Homo sapiens: one gene and its partners. The protein of the gene in region 5 purifies or fractionates together with the protein of the main gene of each other region. This does not show direct contact. Each region holds a gene or a part of one and is shown on either strand. Other genes may lie near its edges.

Region 1 (3,226 bases), about 40 Mb from region 5:
TCTTTGTGGTCTAGTCCAATGTCTTAATATTTGTGATATTAAACAGTTTTATATCACATTAAGAAAAATTATTTAAGTAAATTTACCTAAGGTATCTTAAAAGTATAAGAAAAATTTCTTAGCAAAGCCAAGAAATTTCTCATATATTGATTTATAACTAATGGTATAAAAACATTTTTTGGTGTCCATATTTTGATAATACCCAACATTAATATTTTAAAATTGTTTTTATTTTAATTTTTTAAGGTAGAAATATGATTACACCCTAGACATTTTTATCACAGCATTCTTTTTGTATATGAAGCACCTAGAAAGTCACACTGATGAGAAAAGTAGAACATCAGTACTTTTCTACCAAAAGTCCTACTTCTGCTGTTTTAAAACTTGCCTTGATTTCTAATTTAGACAATGCTGGCTGGACGCCTTTGCATGAAGCCTGTAACTATGGCAACACAGTGTGTGTCCAGGAAATTTTGCAACGTTGTCCAGAGGTAGATCTGCTCACTCAAGTGGACGGGGTGACTCCTTTGCATGATGCACTGTCAAACGGACATGTAGAAATTGGCAAGCTGCTACTACAGCATGGGGGTGAGTGTGTTTATGCTAAATGGGTTTTGATAAATTATCCAGTTTTTTGATGAATCCTGCAGAGGTAGATAGCATTTTATGTTTAAAATCTGTAAGGAAAGATGCCTTTATTTCATATTAATGAAAAAGTAAGGATAAAAAGTCTCCTAAAACGTAAGCACCTTTTATTATTAGAGATAAAATCCTTTTCATAATGTATATTTGTTTATGTATATATTATTAAGCCTATTTAGGTTCGTGTATGAGAGTCTGTTTTTGAATTGAGTTTGCTGGTTTTAAATATTTATCTTTTTCCTTCAGGTGTGTAATGTCTTTGTGAGCCAGTCATTTCTGAAAGCTTATTGATAAATGGATATAAATGTTCAATTGTGATTACCTGGATTTTTTCATTTCCTGTATGTAACTACAAACTCAATCTTATTTTTAATGAGTCATTTCTGTACAGACTGTAAAAAAATGATATCCTAGAATATTTTTCGTCATTCACATTTTGCAGCCAATTAAGTTAAAGCAGGAGGATTTTCAAATGGTGATAACTGTTATGCAGGGGTTTTGTGAAGGAGGTAACTTGAGCTGAATATTCATCTGCGTTTTTCCTGCTGATTTTTGATCTTTGCTTTCAGCAAGGCCCCACATTATTTCAGTGTCATTCTTCTTATATCTAAACTGAATAATATAAATTTTACAACAAAATGTTCAAAACGGATTGGTGCTTTTAAAAGAAAAAAAGAAAACTGATGACCAGCTTAGAATATGGAAACAAAGATTTGTAGAAATTACTTGTCGTTTTTATTTGTATTAATTTTACATTTAAATTTAACATTATCTTATCCTGTAATTAAAACATTTGATTGTGCATAAAGACAAAAAGCGTATTTTCTTAAGATGTCTTTTTAGTATATATGCATCTAAGGAAGGCTGTATAGCATGGGAGTTTAAGACATTTGGTTATATATAGTCTTCTCCTGCCCCCTAAAGGCCTTAGTGTGTCTGTTTTACTGATATCATTTCATAGTCAATGTTTTTCAGTTCTTCTACCTTGTTTTTTTTAGTATTCTGTGTTTACTAAACCATAAGTTCTACCTCCTTAATGTTTTATTTTTCTACTCAGCCGTGTGTCTGGCATTCAGGCCAATATTTGTTAGGAGCCATTATTGTATTAGGTCCAGCTCTTCAGTAGAGTATGGCATTATACCAACCAATGTGAATTTTTCTAGGGCTCTTAGTGGAGAATAGTAAAGAGATGAGTTTCTCCTCCTAGAAGAGGAAATCTAATTGTTTTTGTTTTTATCAAGGTCCTTTGGCAGTCGTACAGACTTGTTTCTGCCTTAGTCATATTCTGGGTTTGGACCTGTCAAGTGGTTTGACACTTATATTGAAGTAACTGCATTATCTATTCATTGTGAGTCACTCAGCCTCAAGAGCAATAATTTCAAGAATTTATTTATTTCTCTAAAACGTTTGTTTACTTTTGGTATCCTGTGTCCGTAATTTTGTCTTTTTTTTTTTTTTTAAACAGAAGTAACTTGGAACAATTTTTTTGAGATGTTGGCACAGTGAAAAGGAGCCTAATTTTGTTTTAGAATTATCTTCTTTCCATAAATTATACATTAATCATATTATCAATGGTTGATCTTTTATATTAAGTACATTTTATATCTATGCTACTATGTATGTCTGATCAGAGTCATCATTATGAATTTTAGCAGTTATAATCAGTTCTCTCTTTCTGACAATATGATCTATGTTATAATTGTAGGACCTAGTGATTATGTCTGCTAGTACTAAAATCTTTATATCCCCTGTAACGTTTTTATGGCCAAGTGCATAAATAATTATAAGACTTGACTGATGAAGGCAAAAGTACTCCTATACTTTGCTATGTAACCAAATACTGAGTTATGTTTTGCCTTCTCCACATCATCCTTTAGTACTTAGTGGATAAACTCTATCTTTAGTACTTTCTAAGTAGGTAGTTAAATGAGTTTAACTAGTATAGATGGATGAGATCTGAGTTTGATCTAGAAGAATTAATATGTAATTTGTGTGAACCAGTTACCTGTACTAAACATTGAACACAAGCAAGGGTAATATGAAAACTGTTCTCTATCTGTGCAAGGTTTTGTAGTCTTTGCACTGCTAGAATTGTTTATTAGCAATGAAAGGGGCACTACTTTTTCCTCTTGGTGATATTTTGAGATACCCCTGAGGCTCTTGTATAGAATTTATAAGATGAATAATACATTTTTAAGATTTCTTCTGGGAACACTGAAATTCTTATTTTAAAATGACAGTTGATAAAGTTTTATAAAAGTTTTTATTTGTAGTTGTATTTATTATTTATTTAACGGAGGCATGCACGTTTGGGGAAACCTTATTAGGTAATTGACTAGAATTTTTTTAATGTACCTTTATTCGTCTATATATATAGTCAGTTAATTGTGTCGACATGAATTAATACAAAATATGATTGCAAAGAAAGCACTGGATGCTTTGGGAAAAAGGAGAAAAGAGCTGTTAAGCTGCCAAAATAGAAATGTTTTACTTGCAACATTTTGCATTTTCTTTTCACAGGCCCAGTGCTTTTACAACAGAGGAATGCTAAGGGAGAATTGCCCTTGGATTATGTGGTTTCACC
Region 2 (3,500 bases), on a different chromosome or scaffold from region 5:
AAGGGAGAAATTTATTTAAAGAGCAAATCTATTGAATAAATCTTTGTATGAAACTGAGCATTCCCTTTAGAAAATATAGTACTAATATGTTTTTAAAATGATGCTAAATAACTTCTCTTGATTTTTCTTTGTTTCTCTTTGTTAATGGTAGAATTCTGGTACAGCTCAAGTTTTCAGTTTAGTAGCAGAACGTAGAAAGAAATTTCAGGAAATCATCAATCGCAGTAGCAGTGAAGCAAATCAGGTGGTTCGTCCCAAAACTTCAAGTAAATGGTCTGCTCCTGGTTCAGCTCCACAGTTAACTACAGCCATTTTGGAAATTAAAGAAAGCATATTGTCTTTGCTAATTAAACTTCACCACAAACTCTCAGGAAAACAAAACTCCTACTATCCTCCTTGGCTTGATGACATAGAAATTTTAATCCAACCAGAAATTCCTAAATACAGTCATGGAGATGGTATAACTGCCGTGGAAAGAATTTTACTAAAAGCTGCATCGCAAAGTAGAATGAACAAACGCATCATTGAAGAGATATGTAGAAAAGTGACCCCTCCTGTACCACCTAAAAAAGTCACTGCAGCAGAGAAGAAAACATTGGACAAAGAAGAAAGGTAATTTTTATTTTTAATGTTTTAAACGTGTGTATAGTTGAAAATTTGATATTTTCTTCCTTTTGGTCATTTGAGGATAATCACCTGGATGTTTAACAGGAACAGTCATAGCTGATTAGTTTGTAACATAAATGGAATGGAGCATAGTCAGTGCTTGTACATGTGATGTATTGAGTTTATTGATGGACAGGTGAGACTTTCTGACCCCAATGTAAAATTACTACCTTAAACCTGTGTGTCTCTTTGGAAAAATTGCTACTGCTTTTATTGCTGTAGGGATCTAATAATTCTCTTACTGTTAAAGTTGAACTGTTCAGCTTTAAATGAGAATATTAAAAATATTTAAAATATTTCTCAAAATAAAAATCCAACTGCTTTAGTTTCTTTTGGTCTTTTCTAATCTTTATTAATATATGATTGCTGATTTTTAAAAAGTGATGTTTTAAAACACATTCTGACTAACTTATGCTTCTAGCTTTTGGATCTTTAGGTTGCTTATAATTTGTTGTTAAATTATATTTATAAACTTTTTTTTCATCTTTTGACTTTCTTGAAAAAAAAATGGGATTTTTTTAAAATCTCAAGATATATACTATGTTATGTGGGGTTTGTGGGTCAAGGACTATGAGCATGGTTTGGTTCTTTTTTTTAGTGGTACATTGTTTGCCAGAAGAGTTGTGTTACTGTGCATTGTCACAAATTGTTTCCCAAGAGCCTTGTCAACATTGCTGACCCTGCTGTCATAAACATGACAAGGTGAATCTTGAGAGATTGAAACTCTGCATAATTGTCAAACTCTTGGAAAGGGTTCAGTGTTTATTAAAGAAAAAAAAAAAGAGCATGCCTTCTAATGAGTGTACACAGGCTAAAAGACCCAGGACATTTAAAAAAAAGATTTCAGATCAAATTCAAGATAGTCATTGCTCACTTCTCTGAGGTTATAAATAATATTCATTGTTTTAATTTCTTTATTATTTAAGACAAATTTGTCTACCAAAGCAACAATTATAGGGGAAGGGTACACATTTCCCGTTAGGGAGGGTCCAAAGAGATCACATCAATATTATCTTAATTTAAGAACCTAGGACCTTTATCATCTCAATCTGTTTTATATAGGTAAAAATCATTGTCAACAGAGTTATCTGGACTACTGTTGTGAGCAGTATGACTAATACATTATTTAGCAGTTTGAAGTGTACTTTAGAGGTATTTTCTGGATAATTTCATCTTCTTAGTTACTTTTAAAATTAAATATAGGCAGTTATGGGTTAAATGATCAGTGGAAGCAAGCCTAAGATGGATCTTACTTGATTGATCCGTTTCTCATTCATTGGGTGTCAGTCAAGCAGTTTTCTAGACATATCTGTGTCTGGTGTTGGACTTCCTGACCTCGAGGAATTGATACTATAATGGAGAGACAGACTGGTAAACAGATAGTTTGTTAGTAGTGTTAACATAGTGTAACAGATACTATCTTAGGTACACAGGGTGTTAATGGGAGTAGTAGGACATAAGGCTAAGAAGGTAACCATGTATCGTTAACTCGCACAGGGTATAAATGGTTACAGGGAAACTGTGGAAGGATTTTAAGTGAGGAATAATATATAGGGTAATTACATGAGGGTAGATTAGAGTGGGGTAAGACTGGAAATTGGGAGAGCAAGCTACTTAGTCATCTAGTGGGGCAGGTGTGGTAAGGGTCTGAACTAAGACAGTGATGATAATAAAGAGAGGAGGAGATGTGTATGAGATATTTAGCAGGTACAAGTTGTTAGACTCAGTCATCAGGTTGATGTGAGAAATGAGGGAGATGTCTTGAATGGTGCCCTGATTTCTGACTTGAATAATGTTCCTTTTACCAAGATAATGGAGTGTAGGAGGGGTCCCAGGCTCATTAGTAAAAGTGATCTGTTCAGTTCTGGACGCTACTAAGTTTAAGAGGGACACCCAGGTGAAGGTGTCCAGTCAGATATAGGGTTTAAAACTTAAGGGAGAATTCTTAGAGCTACAGATTTGAGCAGCTAGGTAGTAGTAAATCCTTGTATATGGGAGAAGGTTTACAGTAAGAAAATGAGAAGACTGAATGTAGAACTTAAGGGAAAAACATTAAAGGGAATGACTGAGGAAGGGGTACCTACAAAGGTGACTGACGAAGGGATGGCTGAGCAGAGTAAGAGAAAAACTGGGGTGAGTGGCATTAGAGAAGTCACAAGAGGAAGTTCAGAAAGCAAGAAACTTATCAAAATTGTTAAGTGCTACAGGAGTTCAATAAGATTGGCCATCCTATTTGATTTGTTAGTTAGGAGGTCATCCGTTGGTACCTGTATAAGGAGCAATTTTAGTCACATATATAGTTACACTACATCTCTGATGTAATTAAAAGTTTGTTGGGAGGCCGAGGTGAGTGGATCACAAGGTCAGGAGATCAAGACCATCCTGGCCAACATGGTGAAACCTCGTCTCTACTAAAAACATAAAAATTAGCTGGGCGTGGTGGCGTGTGCCTGTAGTCCCAGCTACTAGGGAGGCTGAGGCAGGAGAATTGCTTGAACCTGGGAGACAGAGGTTGCAGTGAGCTGAGATCGCGCTGCTGCACTCCAGCCTGGCGACAGAATGAGACTCCATCTCAAAAAAAAAAGTTTGTTATAAAAAATTTATATTAATATATGCAAAAGCTTATGGTAGATTAAGAATTTAGGAGAATTCCTAAATTGGAGTTATAAAGAACTAACACAAAATTTGTTTCCGTGGGAGAAAGGACATTCAGTAACATATAATTCAGATGACCATTCATTAAGTTTGAATTAGTAATAGCCTAGAATGTAATAAATCTACTGACAAAATTAGAAGGTTGAAAATGAGGTAAGATTGTTATTTTTGTTAATTAG
Region 3 (3,500 bases), on a different chromosome or scaffold from region 5:
GCGCCTGTAGTGCCAGCTCTTCAGGAAGCTAAGGTAGGAGAATCACTTGAACCTGGTTGGTGGAGGTTGCAGTCAGCCTGAGATGGTGCCACTGCACTCCAGCCTGGGTGCTAGAGTGAGACTCCATTAAAAAAAAAAAAAAAGCGGACTTTAGTGTTTAATAATAAGGGAATGCATTTATGAATATAGTTTAAAACATGCTTTCTTAAGGATGGGAAAAATGCAGGACTTTTTTCCAAGAAAGGAACTTTGACCTTTTAAAGATTTCAGTTTGAGATCCTTATTGTTGCTTCAGTTTGTTACTTTTTAAGGTGTTCAAATCTGTTTTCTAATTACAATGATAAACTATGAATTTAAAAACTCATTATGTTTTTTCAGGATAGTTCCCAGATTTAAAAAATTATTTATGACTTAGAAAATACATTCTTGCTTTTTGTTGTAAACATTTTCAGTATTCTCCAGTTTTGGTGATGTGATTTTTATACCTGGTTCATTGAAATATTCTTTTTAAAAGTTAGTCTGATTTCTTTTGCACAGTCCTGTACCTTCAATTATAAGTTTGCCTCAAGCTCTTTGTGGTAGGAGTCTGAGAATAAGTAAACAAAACCAATTCTCAGTAACTATTTTCAGACTTAATTTGCCCGAATTACATTTCATGTCAAAAGCATGCATTAAGGAACAAAGCAATTTCAGTAAAGACACCTATATTCTCTCCTACATGTTGCTTAAGTAGATAACATATCTTAAGCAGATTTACAATATTAAAAGCTTCCAAGGAAACTCAGTAAAGTACCATGTGACTTTTTGCCCCTATTGGCAGCTAGTTCTTCAATACTTGGCTTACTTTAAAAAAAATACCTTGCATCTTGCCCCTTTTGTCCACCTAGGATAGAAATCAGCTTTATTCAGTGTGATCATATACTGAGAAACATTGGCTTCCTCTACATAATTACTGGTTTGAGAAAATACAGTCAGAAGATTGCACTGGGATTGAATAATTTGGATGAGAAGAAAGTAGTTCTCTATTGAATGTAGTTATAGCTTAGTGCTATTTATGCAGATAAACCACATTTTTGTAACAGTAGTAGCAGGTGTATTTGATTATTAAAGTGTTACAAGTTATTGGGTTGCAAAATTAAGCTTTTAGAGTTATCAGTTTTGTGGGTAAGTTTTCCATAGTATTATGTAAAGCCTGAGATGGTACTCTCTATCAACCACTCTTCTATAGTGGATTTCATTTCTAATGTTAGCTCTTGGAGAGCAGGTACTGGTTGTACTATACTGTATTTATTTTGAAAAATTTGGTGATTGTAACAAAATAGGATATGGCACCTCATCTTCTTACAAATAGGCTCTTATTTTAGTGACTATGATCCAGTTTATCCCCAAATGCAAGAAGTCAGTTTTTCAGTTATAAATGCTTTCAATCATTTCCAGCAAACCTTGCTCAGCCAATTCTTTTACAGGTGAAGTAATCCCAAGAACATTCTGTTGCTTATTCATTCAACAAACCTGGGGCATCTACTGTGTGCCAACATTTGTGTGATACTCCTGGGAGTCAAGATGTGATCCTGGCCTTGAAGCTATTCTTAAATGCTTTGACTCTTGAGAGCTAGTGGTGTTTTAGCCACTTACTTTTTCTGTACCCATTTTTTCTTCACTTTGATTTTTTCATTTTTCTACCTGTATGAACTCCAGGTACTTGTTAGCTTTTCGTTTTTAAAAATTTGCATCTTTCCTGATGTTTCTTTAGCTTCATTTGCAAGAAACTTGATGTTTTTCTGATCTAATCACTTGCTAAGTTAGGCCCCACTTTCCAATTTTCTTTCTAGCTGATTGTCGTCTTCTGGAGTCTTCCAGCTAATACTGTGATTCCATTCCTGTCTCTACCATCTCTAACATACCTGGCTGCCATATTCCTTTATATTATATGGAAATAATAATATGAGGTATATCTCCATTCTGGAATTGAGAGTACATCTTTGATATTCTCTCTTCAAAAAACGTAAAATGGTGATTTTTCCTCATTTTATAGTGAGATATTTAGTCATTATAATTTGTTTTCTGGTGTTTATTTTTTATTGCTAATGATGTGTTTGGCACTAAGATGTTAAAAGTGTATATGTATGATTTTTATTGCAGGCATTATAAACTCCTTTGGATTTTTATCCAAAAATGAATTCAGGCCGGGTCAGTGGCTCACGCCGGAATCTCAGCACTTTGGGAGGCCGAGGCAGGCAGATCACCTGAGGTCAGGAGTTTGAGACCAGCCTGGCCAACGTGGTGAAACCCTGTCTCTACTACAAATACAAAAGTTAGCTGGTTGCGGTGGCGAGTGCCTGTAATCCCAACTACTAGGGAGGCTGAGGCAGGAAAATCACTTGAACCCAGGAGGTGGAGGTTGCAGTGAGCTGAGATTGTGCCATTGCACTCCAGCCTGGGAGACGGATTGAGACCCTGTCTCAAAAAAAAAAAAAAAAAAAAGAATTCAGCCAGGCACAGCTGCTCATCTCTGTAATGCTGGTTGCTTGGGAGGTTGAGATGGGAAGGTCCTTTGAAGCCAGGAGTTTGAGACTAGCCTTGGCAACATAGCAAGACCCTGTGTCTACTAAAAAAAAAAAAAATTTTTTTTTTGATTAGCTGGGTGTGGTGGGATGATTGCTTGAGCCCAGGAGTTTGAGGTTAACAGTGAGCTGTGGTTGTGCCACCACACTCTAACCTGGGTTGATAGAGTGAGACCCGTCTGTTTAAAAAAAAAAAAAAAAAAGAAAAAAATTAATGTATATAAATTCAAGACCATTATCAAAAATCAAATGCAAGTGAGTTGGATTATCTAAGCTCTAAGCATGTAAAAAACTTAAGATTACAGCAGGTTACTTACTATATGCATTGAACTACTGAATTCAAATTTCCCAGTTTTTCATTTTAAGATTTAATGATTTTCTTTACTAATAATAACCTATATGCTATGATTTGTAACTTGCATTTTACAAAGCAAGTTAAATGTGGAACTTGTGCGTTTGTTTACCTTAGGATTAGGCTTTACTGGCATCACAGCATTTTTCAGTAATTACTAGATTTCTTAGCATCTTGGATTTCATTGAAAAATGCTCGTTCAGAAGTAATGTATGAAAGGACTTGCAGATACAATATAAAAAGTGAGAAATCAGGGATTGTGAAGGTTTTTATTCCCAAAAACCTTGCTAGTTAAAATAAGACTTGCTGTAACATAGCGTGTATAGTTTAGAGTTAGAGATTTTATCCATTAGGATTTATTAAAGGAAATAATGTCTATTGTAAATTTAAGATAGGTTATGTGAGAGTATAATTAAAATATTTTTTTGTGAAATGAGTTATTTTTATATAGTCTGTGATCTGTCTGAAAACATACAATCTTGTTTAAAGTAACCAAAAGCAAAAACCTTAAGGTACAATCGTTAGGGTTTGTTTTTTGGTTTTTTTTTTTCTGGAGACAGAGTTGCCCAGGCTGGAGTGCAGTG
Region 4 (3,500 bases), on a different chromosome or scaffold from region 5:
CTGGGCTGATGGCAGTAGGCTGGGGTCCAGGGCAGGGGCCTGGCGGCTAATGATGGTGAGTACCTCAGACTGCAGTGGAGGGCTGGCACTCTGGTTCTTGCCCCCTCATGCCCCCTCTCCACCCTCTCTGTTCTTTCCTCTCCTCCCAGGGAGCTTCAGGCCATGGAGGCCTTGCAGAATGGCCAGACCACGGTAGAGGGGAGCATAGAGGGCCAGTCGGCTGGGGCTGCGAGCCATGCCATGATAGAAAAGATCCTCAGCGAGGAGCCTCGGTGGCAAGGTACAGGCATCCACACCTCGGCCGCGCCCTCCCTATAATCCTGCTCATAGCTGCCCTGGGGATTTGGCTCACCACCACCTACTGCCTGCTCTAGCCGAGGCCCCGACCTGGCCCGCATCCCACCCTACACCCACCATTCAAAAGGCGCCTCTAGGGGCGTTTTCCCTGACACATCATGTTCCCAAGATCCCTCCAGGCTTTCACATGTGCACAGGCACGTACATAAGCGCACATGCAAATGTTTTCCGCCCTGCAAGAGTGCCCTTTCACCCTGTGAGCTGTGAGTGTCTCTCTGATGGACAGCATCTGTTGTCCTTGCTGCACCTGGGGCTGTCCCATGGCCTGGGAGGAGGGGCCCTACTCACATCTGGCAGGGGCCTCCTGTCTTGAACTCCTTCCCAGTGGCTTCTCCTTCCCTCCACTCCAGTCCTGCTAGTCTTGGGGTGCTCCAGCTCCTCTCACCTGACCCCTGCCCTCTGGCCCCCTGTGCAGAGACTGCTTATGTGCTGGGGAACTATAAGACGGAGCCTTGCAAGAAGCCCCCGCGGCTGTGCCGCCAAGGCTATGCCTGTCCCTACTACCACAACAGCAAGGACCGGCGGCGGAGCCCCCGGAAGCACAAATACAGGTCCTTAGGCCCCAGGAGGCCAGCCACGGGAGGGAGGAGTGGCAGGGAAGGGGTCAGGCAGAGGCTGCTCCCACTGGCTCTCCGGGAGGAGGGGAGGCTGGTCCTGGGGATGACAGGATCGCAAGCCCAGGGCCCAGGGGAGGGCATAGTGAGGATAGCTGGACAGTAGGAGCCCAGCTTCACCTCCTGCATGAATGAGGACCCTGGTCAGACCGTCTCTGAGGCTCCACCGCTCCTGATCCTGAGGGGAATGTGTTGAATGAGGACCAGGCCACAGCGTGGACAGTGTGGTTGTAGCTCCAGCCTGACCCTACTTGGGCTAGTGGGAGGGCCTGGCTGAGGGGAATCAAACAGTATCCTTTGTGGTGATTCGGCCAGGCTGGGTCAGAGAAAGAGCTTGGCTTGTGGCACCAGCAAGGCCCTGACTCTGCAGCTGGTCTTTTCCATTTCTGTGCTCATGCCTATGAGGCTGGGTCCAGGTGGCACCTGCTAGGCTCCGATCTCACCTTCTCCTTTCTCCATCTGACCCCACCCTCTTGTTGGCCAGGTCGTCTCCATGTCCAAACGTCAAGCACGGGGATGAGTGGGGAGACCCTGGCAAGTGTGAGAACGGAGACGCCTGCCAGTACTGCCACACCCGCACCGAGCAGCAGTTCCACCCCGAGGTGGGCCCCACAGCAGGGTGGGGGGGTGGCTTTGGGAAGTAAGGAGAGAGGCAGGCAGGATCAGTGGAGATGTTGGCAGAACCCATCCTGATGCCATCCTGGAAGAGGGACTTGTGGCCACCAGCTCTCCCCTGGCAGTGCCTAGAGGATCCCTGCATGCTGAATTTGGCATCTTCTCCTATTCTGAGCCCACGCTCACCAAGCAGCCCTCTGCTTCCAGTTCTGTGTCCCCCAGGCCTCCTGACAGGGCAGGTGTAGATGGAGTGTGGCGACCTGGCCACTCTGGGCTTTCCACCACTCATGGTGCTTGTAATCCAGTGACATCAGGATTGAAAAAATAGGGCCAGGCACGGTGGCTTATGCCTATAATTCCAGCACTCTGGGAGGCCGAGGTGGGTGCATCACTTGAGGTCAGGAGTTTGAGACTACCCTGCAACATGCTATCTCTACTAAATGTACAAAAATTAGCCAGATTTGGTGGTGAGCGCCTGTAACCCCAGCTACTCGGGAGGCTGAGGTGGGAGGATCGCTTGAACCCGGGAGGCGGAAGTTGCAGTGAGCCAAGATCGCACCACTGCACTCCAGCCTGGGTGACAGAGCGAGACTCCATCAAAAAAAAAAAAAAAAAAAAAAGGATTGAAAAAAAGTAAGCTCCTTCCTGTTGCCCTGTCTCCTATCAGGGCCTAGATTATCAGCAACCTCCCTAACACAGTTCCCTTGCCCTCTGGCCCCAAGAGGTAGCCTGGGCCATATCTGTGTGCCTAGGTCTTGTCTGGGGTTCAGAGAGGCACCTGCAGTCCCTGCCCTTGGTGTTCCATGGAAGCCAGGACACCCTGAGGTAGACACGCGGACAGAAACTACCTTATGTAGCTGCAGACAGCAGAGTGGAAGGTTACTTATATAGGTCACAACCCAGGGTATCCTGACAGGGTTCACATTGGCAGGGGTAGTTGCCTGAGATTGTGGCTCCCTTAATGCCCAGGAGGCACGCTTGGAGGCACAGACCTGGCCATGCCCGTGAGTGGAGAGTCACTGGGGGATCCCTTTGGGAGGGCTGGTGGGACCTGTGGCCCCAGAACGGAGGCTGTCAGTGACAATGGGGAGTGGTGGTGGGCTGCCTCAGGAGTTTGAGTAAGAAGCTGGTAGGGAGAGACATAGTGGAGGGGAGGGGAGGGGCCGGGAACACAGGGCAAGAGATGACTAAGCCAGCGCACTCATGCTGGAGGAAGGGGAGCCTGCCCGGCCTTCCCTCAGGGCCTGAGCCTGACTTGCCTGTGCTCTGCCCTCCAGATCTACAAGTCCACCAAGTGCAACGACATGCAGCAGTCGGGCAGCTGTCCCCGAGGACCCTTCTGCGCCTTTGCCCACGTAGAACGTATGCTGTTCCCATTGCCCCGGGGCAGTGCCCTCTCCCACCCCTCCCTCGCCTGGCTAGCTCAGGCTTAGGCCGGGGATGGCCCCTGGCAGTATGCCCTGCACAGGAGTTCTGGCCTGCCAGCAGCAGGCCTTGTCCCCACTGGAAGCTCCATTCCCCCACCTTTCTGGAAGTAGCCTTGAAGGCCTAGAGCTTCCAAAGTAGTGAGATAGAGACTGCAGGGATTGTCCGCCTGGTTGAGCACTCATGGTTCCAGGGAGGGTTGAGGCACTGTGCCTCCCATGGCTGACTTGGCAAATCCCACCAGCCACCCCATGTCATACCCATGACAGACATCACTAATGGAACATGGAGCTCTTCTCTGCTGAGTCCTGCTCAGGCCTCTAGAGCAGAGCTAGCCAGTCAGAATATAGTGCAATCCCCATATGTCATTTTAAAGTTAAAATATTTAAGCATGTTAACAAAAATAGCAAAATATGAAAATAAGCTGGGCATGGTGGCACACGCCTGTAATCCCAACTACTCGGGAGGCTGAGGCATGAGAATCACTTG
Region 5 (3,500 bases):
TGGAAAAAATGGCCCATTCCTGTAATCACAGTGCTTTGGGAGGTCAAAGTGGGAGGACTGCTTGAGGCTAGGAGTTCAAGGACCAGCCTGGGCAACACACAGAGACTTTGTGTCTACAAAAAAGAAAAAGAAAACAAACAAAAAAATTAGCTGGGCATGGTGGTCCACACCTGTCGTCCCAGCTAGTTAGGAGTCTGAGGCAGGAGGATTACTTGAACCCAGGAGTTTGAGGTAACAGTGAACTGTGACTGTACCACTGCACTCCAGCAGGGGTGACAGAGTATAACTTTGTCTCTGAAGAAATAAGAAACAAACCAAAAATCCACAACAAACCCAGCACTTTGGGAGGCCAAGGTGGGCAGATCACAAGGTCAGGAGATCGAGACCATCCTGGCTAACATGGTGAAACCCCGTCTCTACTAAAAATATAAAAAATTAGCCAGGCGTGGTGGTGGACGCCTGTAGTCCCAGCTACTCACAAGGCTGAGGCAGGAGAATGGCGTGAACCCGGGAGGCGGAGCTTGCAGTGAGCCGAGATCGCGCCACTGCACTCCAGCCTGGGCGACAGAGCGAGACTCCGTCTCAAAAAAAAAAAAAAAAAAAAAAAAAAAAATCCACAACAAAATACGTGGCTCACATGGACATGGAAGCAACACCTACAAGTGAGCCCTAACAGTAAAAAGTAAGGTGAAAGAGCTAAAAGGAGGGAAACAACTCTTTTCCCCACTATCATCTGCAAAATCTATAAAATGCTACTTACCATTTGGATGAAACATTTTGGATAAAAACCTAACAGTTGGTGGTTTATTTGGATATTCTTCAGAAAATTCTATTACTAGTTTAAAAGTACCTAGAGAGAAAACAAAATAATTATAGTAAAGACAAGCACGACTTTTTAATCTCTTCATCAGTTCTCAACTGCATACTGGTTTTTGTACAACCACATAAAAGTTAGTATGTCAACGTTGGTTCGGCATACAAAACATCCTAAATATACTCTATTTATGTTAGAATGGTAACACGCAGCATTGGCAAGCGGTTGGGGAACAAGCACATTCATGTTGCTATTGGTGGGAGTGTTAACTGTCATATTTTTGGAAGGCAACTAGGCCCTAGCTACCAAGATTTAAAATGCATATTTGAAGAACTACAAATAGTTTATTATAGCTTAGAATGGGAGTTGGTTAAAGGATTTTGAGAGGGTCTGACTACCACATGGCAAAGGACCCTCCCAGGAGGTGGAGGTTGCAGTGAGCCCAGATCATGCCGCTATGCTCTGGCATGGGTGACAAAGCAAGACTCCGTCTCACACACACAAAAAAACTTTAACTCAGAAAATCTTCATTAAAAATAACTGTAGCCAGGTGGGGTGGCTCACGCCTGTAATTCCAGCACTTTGGGAGGCTAAGGTGGGCGGATCACCTGAGGTCAGGAGTTGAGACTAGCCTGGCCAACGTGGTCAAACTCCACCTCTACTAAAAGTACAAAAATGAGCTGGGTATGGGGGTGCCTGTAATCTCAGCTACTCAGGAGGGTGAGGCAAGAGAATTGCTTGAACCTGGGAGGCGGAGGTTGCTGTGAGCAGAGATCGCGCCATTGCACTCTAGTCTGGGTGACAAGAGCAAGACTCTGTCTCCAAAAAAAAAAGGTAGGTTAAACTGCAAACCCATTACACAGAATATAAATTAAAATTATATTTCTCCCCAAGTTGGTGATAAGTGTAAGCAATGTTTTACATATTTGCAACTGTCTCTTTAATGACTGGCTTAACAGAAGATAGCTGGATTCTCTTATCTGCTTCTGCACTCCATCTATTACAATACCGTTTAGTTTAAGTACATGAAGAAAATCTGGCCTCACACAAATATGTACTTGAAAAAAGGAGTACTTTCTTTCTTTCTTCCTTTTTTTTTTTTTTTTTTGTTGAGACAGAGTCTCACTGTTGCCCAGGCTGGAGTGCAATGGCACCATCTCAGCTTACTGCAGCCTCCGTCTCCTGGGTTCAAGCAATTCTCCTGCCTCAGCCTCTGGGGTAGCTGAGATTACAGGCACGTGCCATCCCGCCTGGCTCATTTTTGTATTTTTAGTAGAGACGACGTTTCACCATGTTGGCCAGGCTGGTCTTGAACTCCTGACCTCAGGTGATCTGCCCACCTTGGCCTCCCAAAGTGCTGGGATTACAGGCATGAACCACTGCACCCAGCAAAAAAAGTAGTATTTGAATAGCTTTTTCAGGTGACTGTAGCTATTCTGTTTTGATATTATACCAAAGAAGAAATGGTAGTTCTTTTAAAGGTTTGCTGCAATATAGAATCTGAAATTATTAGTCAACTTTTTGTACTCAGTTACATTAAAATCTGTTCACTTCACATACGTGTTTTACCCATTCATGGTTTTGTATTATTATTCATGGGACATCTGCAAAATATTGGGTGACTCGAGTTTACAGATCCTCCAAATGTTGCCATATTCCATTATATACTATCAAAAAAATCACAACAGGTAACACTACCCACTAATCTCATCAAAAAGTAAGTATCAGGAAGCTGTTATTTTATCAACAGCAACAAATATCTTCAGTTGCTATCCTTAACCTAACAACCCACTTAGATCCCCCCACTGTTTTTTTTTTTTTTTTTTGAGATGGAGTCTTGCTCTGTTGTCCAGGCTAGGGTGCAATGGTGCGATCTTGGCGCACTGCAACCTCTGCCTCCCAGGTTCAAGCAATTCTCCTGCCTCAGTCTCCCGAGTAGCTGGGATTACAGGTGCCCGCCACCACACCGAGCTTATTACATTACTTCTGAGAATATGTCTGCCATATATTCAAACCTGAATAACCACAGCTTGTCTGTATTTTCAAGTAAAAAATGTTCCATGAAAAAAAGTCATTCAAATTGCAACTCAAACAACTGTAGAAGTGCTTTTCTTCCAGACAACTATCATACTATGACATGCAGAAGTGCTTTGTTCATACATTCTACTTCATATCATACAGAATATTAAAAAGACAGATACTCGGCTGGGTGTGGCTCATGCCTCAGCACTTCGGGTGGCCAAGGTGGGCAGATCACCTGAGGTCAGGAGTTTAAGGCCCCAGCCTGGCCAACATGGTGAAACCCCATCTCTACTAAAAATACAAAAATTAGCCGGGCATGGTAGCACATGTCTGTAATCCCAGCTACTTGGAAGGCTGAGGCACGAGAATCACTTGAACCTCGGAGGCGGAGGCTTCAGTGAGCCAAGATTGCGCCTCTGCACTCCAGCCTGGGTGAGAGAGCGAGACAAAAAACAAAAAACAAACAAAAAAAACCCACATAGATACTCAAGGGTCCAGAGCTTCCTAATACTAATAAAAATGTCTTTAAATTAAGAAATTAAGAAAAATTGGTAACTTTTTTAAAGACAAGGTCTCACTCTGTCACCCAGGCTGGAGCTCAGTGGCTCCACCAGGGCTCACTGCAGCCTTGACCTCTTGGGCTCAGGTAATCCTCCCAAGTAGC
Region 6 (3,500 bases), on a different chromosome or scaffold from region 5:
CTTACGTAGGAACAGCACAGGACTGAACCTGATAAGGTCCATCTATCTGGAAAAGGCAAAACAGAAAACAGCTCAGTGGTTACGGGCACTGGGCTAAGGGCTGACCTTGGGGTAACAGAACTGTTCTCTACATCAATTGTGATAGCGGCTACAGGATTGAATTCATGTGATAAATACAAATCACAGACCTCTTCTCAAAAGGGTGAAGATTTCTGCACGTAAATTACAGCTCCACAAAGAAACACAGGATACCACTGAACACCCACCAGAGTAGCTCCAGTCAGGCTGCCAAGCGTTGGTTGCCAAGGGTGTCATGCAACGGAAGCAATCATACAGTGTTGACGGGAGTATACACTGGCACGACCCCTTTGGAAAATAGTTCAACATTTTCTACTAACGTTGAAACTATGCACACACTGTGGCACTTCCACTCCTGGGTTTACACCCAGAACAGGCGCACGGACACCAGAAACACACGCGGGATCCCTCACACGGCGTCTACACAACAGCCAACCTGGACACAAGCCACATGTCCATCAATAGCAGAAGAGATCACACAGGGGAATACTATACAGCAAAGAAAATGGACGGCTGTTACACACCACGGGGCAAACCTCACAAAATGCCCACCAAAGACACAGACATGAGGGAGTCGCCATGGTGTGATTCCACTTAGAGAATGTTCTGAAACAGGCAAACTAGTCCATGCTGTTGGAGGCGGCCGTCCAGGGAGCAGGGGAGGGTGGACGTTGGCAAGGGCACCGGGGCACCCGGGACGGTCGTTTTCCACCCCAGGAGGGGTTTGAGTTGGCCACCCCACAGTGCTGATTCATACAGTTAGCATTTATGCCTGTGTGCTTTTCCATCTGAGTTTTGAAAAGCTTTAAAATTAGCACCCATTGTCAGGTTAGGACTGTTCCTGCTCTAGGAACAGGGTTCCCTGAAAAGGTGTCCTCAAGGCCCTGCTCCTGGAAACAAGGATTAACGCGTGGGGAGCAGGTGCTTCTGGGGTTCGCTGTGCGGAGTCCAGGCTGTTCTGAATGCCCCTGACGCATTGAGACTCGTTCTGAGGAGGGAGTCGTTTCTTTAAAAAATATGGACCGGGCATGGTGGTTCACGCCTGTAATCCCAGCACTGTGAGAGGCTGAGGGGGGCGGATCTCCTGAGCCCAGTTCAAGACCAGCCTGGGCAACATGGTGAAACCTCTTCTCCACAAAAAATACAAAAATTAGCCAGGAGTGGTGGCACGCACCTGTACTCCCAGCTACACAGGAGGCTGAGGTGGGAGGATCTCCTGAGCTCGGGAGATTGAGGCTGCGGGGAGCTGTGATCGCACCACTGCACTCCAGTCTGGGCAACACAGCAAGACCCTGCCTTTAAAAAAAATTAAAAATTGAAATTAAAAATCAAAAAAATTAAAAGTATGTACTGAATGCCTTCTGCAGGGGCTGCGTGCCAGGGACAGAGGAGCCCCATTCCCTCTTCCATGTCATATGTGACGGGGGAAAGGAATGTGGGTCAGCAGAGACCAAGGCCAGAGAGGTGCTGACACTAAGGGGCTGGTGGGAGGGATGCTGTGGGCCTGAGTGGTGGCTGCGGCCACCACACTGACTGTCCTCGGCACGTGCTAATGGGGAAGGGGGCCTGGGAGGGGCAGGTCCTCACCTGCCATGGGCTTCACCTGCACCAGGTAGCCGAGGCCGCTCCCCTCCGACTCTCTCCACTTCATCTGCAGCCGGTCCTCAGGCAGCACAGCCAGCCTCAGGAGACCGCTTGCTACAGAAACAGGACATAGTGGTCAGGACTGACCTGGCCTCCCCATCCACCTAATCAGCTGTGGGGGTACAGGCATCCTGCCCTCAGCATTTGGGAGGAACACAGTCCTATCCCGGGGGACCCCGAAGAGACAGAAGCCCACCCAGGGTGTCTGAGGCGGACTCAGCCCCACTTGGGGATACGAGGCCTCGCCTGGGCGCTGAGGAGAACCCGGCCCTCCCCGGGGTCCGCAGTCACAGGGCCACCCTGGTAGCTTTGGTGAGAGGGAGTCCAGTCCCACCCAGGGAGGCCCCAGCCTGGCTCTCCGGGGGTCCTCCCACCAGGAAGAGGCTCAGGCCCATGTCTGGGAGGACAGCAACCACCCCACTGATGATCGGAGGCCCCGAGCCAACACAGCAGCTGGCAACCTGCCCAGGGCCCTGAGCTGAGTCCCCTGAGCTGGGGCCCCTGGGCTGAGTCCCCGGGCTGGGTCCCCTGAGCTAAGTCCCCTGGGCTGGGGCCCCTGGGCTGAGTCCCCTGGGCTGGGTCCCCTGAGCTGAGTCCCCTGAGCTGGGTCCCCTGGGCTGGGTCCCCTGAGCTAAGTCCCCTGAGCTGGGGCCCCTGGGCTGAGTCCCCAGGCTGGGTCCCCTGAGCTAAGTCCCCTGGGCTGGGGCCCCTGGGCTGAGTCCCCTGGGCTGGGTCCCCAGGACAAGTGGCCATGCAGCTGCAGACCCCTAGCTGCCAAGGTCACTGCCAGGTGCACGTGCCGCCTCAGTGGGGAGTGTGGGTGCAGAATCCCACACTGGAAGTGTGTGCACATTGGCACGTGTGTGCACGTTGGTACATGTGTGCGTCCATGCCAAGACGAGGCTGCCTCCCGCGATGGGGGATGGGTGTCCAGGCCATCTGAGAGGAAGAGGGGGCGGCAGGGGCCTGGCCAACCTCCCAGGGCTCTGGAGAGGGTTGGTGCCCCCTGAAAGCTTCCGGGGCTCTGCAGTAGGGGCAGCTATTTTTGGAAAATGGGGACAGAGATGGGCTTCTTTGGGCTGCCCCCCGGAAAGCTGGGGCTCGGGGGGAAGAGCAGGGGCTGGGGGGCACTGGGGCAGACACAATGACCCATTCAGAGCAGGCAGCAGCTGGGCCGGGTCTCCGGATGGGGCTGAAAGGCAGGAATGTGTGGGGGATGAGGAGGGGGCTCTGAAGGCCAGCTGTGAGCAGGGCCCCTCCCGCAGCCCCTGCTTGTGAAGAGCCTTCTGTTGCTCCACTCTGCCTGAGAACGTCAGGGACCCCTTCCCCAGCTCCCTGCTGGAGGACAGCACTGTTGGGGCCTGAGCAGGGCACTGGGCAGACAGCGGCTGGTGGGAAGGGCCCCACCCAGGACCACGCTCCCCTCCCTGGACTGTGGCCGCACCCAGCCTGGGCCATCCTGGGAAGGGCTGCCCCAGCGTGTGGGCTCCCACCCGTCCTGGGCTGGACTCAGTGCCCCCAGCCCACCTGGCTGTCCTCAGGGACTCAATGGCCCCCGAAAGGCCCTTGTGAGGGGTGGCCCCATCATGCTGAATCCTGAACTAGATAGAACTAGATTTGCCTTCGCCTAAACTCAAGTTGTTTCTGTAGAAGCAACTTACTGATTTGGCTCAAATTGACAGTGCAAGCTTCTTTCAAACTGAAATCTCAGCCCCCACTGGCCCCAGGGCAGGGTTACCCTGTCTGAGCTGAGGGGACCAAGGCACCTGCTCATGCAA
Region 7 (2,501 bases), on a different chromosome or scaffold from region 5:
ATCCTGAGGTATAGGCAGGAGCCCTGGCTCAGGCTGAGTCATCTCAGGACTCCTGTCCTTCAAGAAACCTTGTCTTCACTGCTTCTTCCAACCTCCTTTTTGCTCCCACAACCTGTGCAAACATCATCACCCTATTTCTCACACCACAGGAACAACAAATTTATCTTTACTCAATTTTTGAAGACAAGAAGGGAACTTTATCTCTGCATTCTCACCTCAATGGCTAATATAGCACATTTAATAATACTTGTTGACTACAATAATTAAAGCTCTTACAAACCACTACATAAAAATATTAGTGTTAATTACTGAATTACTGAAAATAAAAATACATGCTGGTACCTTAGTTTTCTTGCATCTTTAAAATAAACACTCCACGAATCTGTAAGAATTATAAAAGTCTTGAGGCTTAATGTAGGATTTTTCAAATATTTGCATAATTTATGCTACACTGCCATGCACAAATATATCGAACAAAAAAAGACACGAAGTTACCCATAAAAGTTGGTAAAAGAATTTTATTATTATGTGGCTTAGGTAGGTTTTTGCATTCTACTAACAGAAAAGCATTTTCCACACCTTATTCAACCTAACACATTATACATTTGTGATTTTATCTACATCGCTGCAGTATTACACTATTGAAAACCTTCCTTTCAAATGTACTTTGGTGCAATTATACAGTAGATATCTCTGCCTTCAGAAAATAAAAATATTCTCAATCTAAACTCAAAATGGAATAAAGACATCAATACCAAGTTTGTGCACCACTTGGTAAAAGATTGCAATAAAAATCAGAAGAGTATGCTGCTTAACATATAAAGAAGATGAGACATCTGCCACAGTTTCAGTCAAACCTTTGTAGGAATGATTTAGCATCTGGGTTTATTTTTACTGCAGTTTTCACATATGATAGGTGGAATTGTACCACAAAGAATAGTCTCATTTGCACGAGAGACTCAAATATTGGACTCTAGCACAGGAAATGTCTCTTGGGGCTTAGTAATATACAAACTGATAGAAAAGAAAATTGCCTTAAGAAAAATTTCACAATTGACTAAACATCTGAAACATTTTTATCACAGCTTTCATATATTAAAAAAGTTTCCTCCAGAGATGAAGCTTATTGATGAAATAAAACCTAGTCACTATCATCTGACCCATGTTCTGAGCCTCTATCTGAGGCCTCATTGTTGGATCCCTCTGGTTCCGATTCATTTCCAGAGCCTTGGCCAGAACCCTCATTATCAGATCCTCTCTCCGATTCGTGATCTGATTCGGCACTTGGAGAAGCTGGGCGAGAGTCGTTCTCAGAAACTCCTGAGTGGCTTCTCCCTGACTGCACAGATTCATTGTCAGACTGCTCAGAACCGGAGGGCCTTCTCTTTCTGGATGGCTGGTCACTGTCTGAGTCCTGATCTGACCGCTGTCTTCGTGGCCTCCGGGGACTGCCGGCCTCGCTGCCAGACTTGTTCTGGTTCTCATCGGAATCACTCTCTGATGAGGCACATTTCTTTCGTTGTTCGTCCTCGTCTGAGTCACTGTTGCTGTTGCTGTTCCTGGGATGTCTGGCAAAGATGATCATTGGTTAGAAGCTGAGGATTCTGGCTAACTGGGGCCTTGATGAGCAGACAATGTGCTTTTAAAACAGAAGGGCATTTAATATTCTATTTCTTGACCTAAATAGTGGTTACACAGGTATCATTCTGTGATACTTGTTTTGTGTACTATTCTGTAAATGTGATATATTTCACAACTCAAAAAGGTTTAAAAAGGAAAAAAAGATAAGGCACTTTAGCTATAAGTCAAAATATAAACAGGGATGGTGACTCACTGGACACTTTTCATCAGAATGAAGCATTTCCCAATTTCATATATAAAATTATGAAAAGGAAGGGATACATTTGTTTATCTCTGTACACAAATTAACAGCAACAAAGGTGAAATCCAGGATCTCAACTGGCTTGAAGACTTTGAAGAATTAACCCTTTTCCAAAGGCAGAAAAGGGTTTCAAAGGACATTTCCCTGTCCTATTGCCATCGGTGCTAACAGGTACCTGAAGAGTGAGGTCATTATTCCTGTCCTAAGATTTGCTACTGCACTAGGTCCCCTCCACCATGACCAGACTTGCTCAAGATAGGGAACTGGGGCTAAAGGGGCCCTTTGGTTTATTTCCCTTTGCTCCCAAGCTCTCCCCTCTACTTGTCAGTTGATAAGTGAAAGGAAAGGGGAAGTCATGCTTATGCTTAGAATGGTGGCAGCACCCTCAGAGTCTTGGCTTCCTGGAGGCTCTGAGGAAAGAACATTCCCTTAACCACGGTGACCGCTCCTTTGGAGCAGGCACACTTCTCTGGCACGTTCCTTAGTTCTGGTTTTCATGACAGATATTCCAATAAAGGAATACTGAATCCCACAGAGTTCGGTCTAGGAACGGTGAGGGAGGTGAAATATATTACTCTCTTTCTGTATACATATTAAAGACCTGTGGGTCTTCCCTGGG

The links.
Region 1: the proteins of UBE2B (region 5) and SLF1 purify together in Homo sapiens (affinity purification with mass spectrometry, with the first as the bait; one large-scale study listed by BioGRID). This does not show direct contact.
Region 2: the proteins of UBE2B (region 5) and UBR3 purify together in Homo sapiens (affinity purification with western blotting; 2 studies listed by BioGRID, with this or other methods). This does not show direct contact.
Region 3: the proteins of UBE2B (region 5) and WAC purify together in Homo sapiens (affinity purification with mass spectrometry, with the first as the bait; one large-scale study listed by BioGRID). This does not show direct contact.
Region 4: the proteins of UBE2B (region 5) and UNK fractionate together in Homo sapiens (co-fractionation; one large-scale study listed by BioGRID). This does not show direct contact.
Region 6: the proteins of UBE2B (region 5) and COL20A1 purify together in Homo sapiens (affinity purification with mass spectrometry; one large-scale study listed by BioGRID and IntAct). This does not show direct contact.
Region 7: the proteins of UBE2B (region 5) and CTR9 purify together in Homo sapiens (pull-down; one large-scale study listed by IntAct). This does not show direct contact.

The regions. Positions count from the first base shown.
Region 1 is NC_000005.10:94,691,669-94,694,894, forward strand, and holds part of SLF1 (SMC5-SMC6 complex localization factor protein 1), read left to right. Parts: intron 1-405; coding exon 406-588; intron 589-888; coding exon of another isoform or gene 889-896; exon of another isoform or gene 897-3,153; intron 3,154-3,162; coding exon 3,163-3,226. UniProt on the Homo sapiens protein: Plays a role in the DNA damage response (DDR) pathway by regulating postreplication repair of UV-damaged DNA and genomic stability maintenance.
Region 2 is NC_000002.12:169,949,454-169,952,953, forward strand, and holds part of UBR3 (E3 ubiquitin-protein ligase UBR3), read left to right. Parts: intron 1-151; coding exon 152-612; intron 613-3,500. UniProt on the Homo sapiens protein: E3 ubiquitin-protein ligase which is a component of the N-end rule pathway. Does not bind to proteins bearing specific N-terminal residues that are destabilizing according to the N-end rule, leading to their ubiquitination and subsequent degradation.
Region 3 is NC_000010.11:28,536,118-28,539,617, forward strand, and holds part of WAC (WW domain-containing adapter protein with coiled-coil), read left to right. Parts: intron 1-3,500.
Region 4 is NC_000017.11:75,812,306-75,815,805, forward strand, and holds part of UNK (RING finger protein unkempt homolog), read left to right. Parts: exon of another isoform or gene 1-55; intron 56-149; coding exon 150-280; intron 281-772; coding exon 773-908; intron 909-1,455; coding exon 1,456-1,573; intron 1,574-2,524; exon of another isoform or gene 2,525-2,584; coding exon of another isoform or gene 2,585-2,590; intron 2,591-2,863; coding exon 2,864-2,948; intron 2,949-3,500. UniProt on the Homo sapiens protein: Sequence-specific RNA-binding protein which plays an important role in the establishment and maintenance of the early morphology of cortical neurons during embryonic development.
Region 5 is NC_000005.10:134,378,069-134,381,568, reverse strand, and holds part of UBE2B (ubiquitin-conjugating enzyme E2 B), read right to left. Parts: intron 851-3,500; coding exon 761-850; intron 1-760. UniProt on the Homo sapiens protein: E2 ubiquitin-conjugating enzyme that accepts ubiquitin from the ubiquitin-activating enzyme E1 and transfers it to a E3 ubiquitin-protein ligase. In vitro catalyzes 'Lys-11'-, as well as 'Lys-48'- and 'Lys-63'-linked polyubiquitination.
Region 6 is NC_000020.11:63,296,186-63,299,685, reverse strand, and holds part of COL20A1 (collagen alpha-1(XX) chain precursor), read right to left. Parts: intron 1,777-3,500; coding exon 1,666-1,776; intron 1-1,665. UniProt on the Homo sapiens protein: Probable collagen protein.
Region 7 is NC_000011.10:10,777,746-10,780,246, reverse strand, and holds the end of CTR9 (RNA polymerase-associated protein CTR9 homolog), read right to left. Parts: intron 1,569-2,501; coding exon 1,142-1,568; 3' UTR 501-1,141; downstream 1-500. UniProt on the Homo sapiens protein: Component of the PAF1 complex (PAF1C) which has multiple functions during transcription by RNA polymerase II and is implicated in regulation of development and maintenance of embryonic stem cell pluripotency.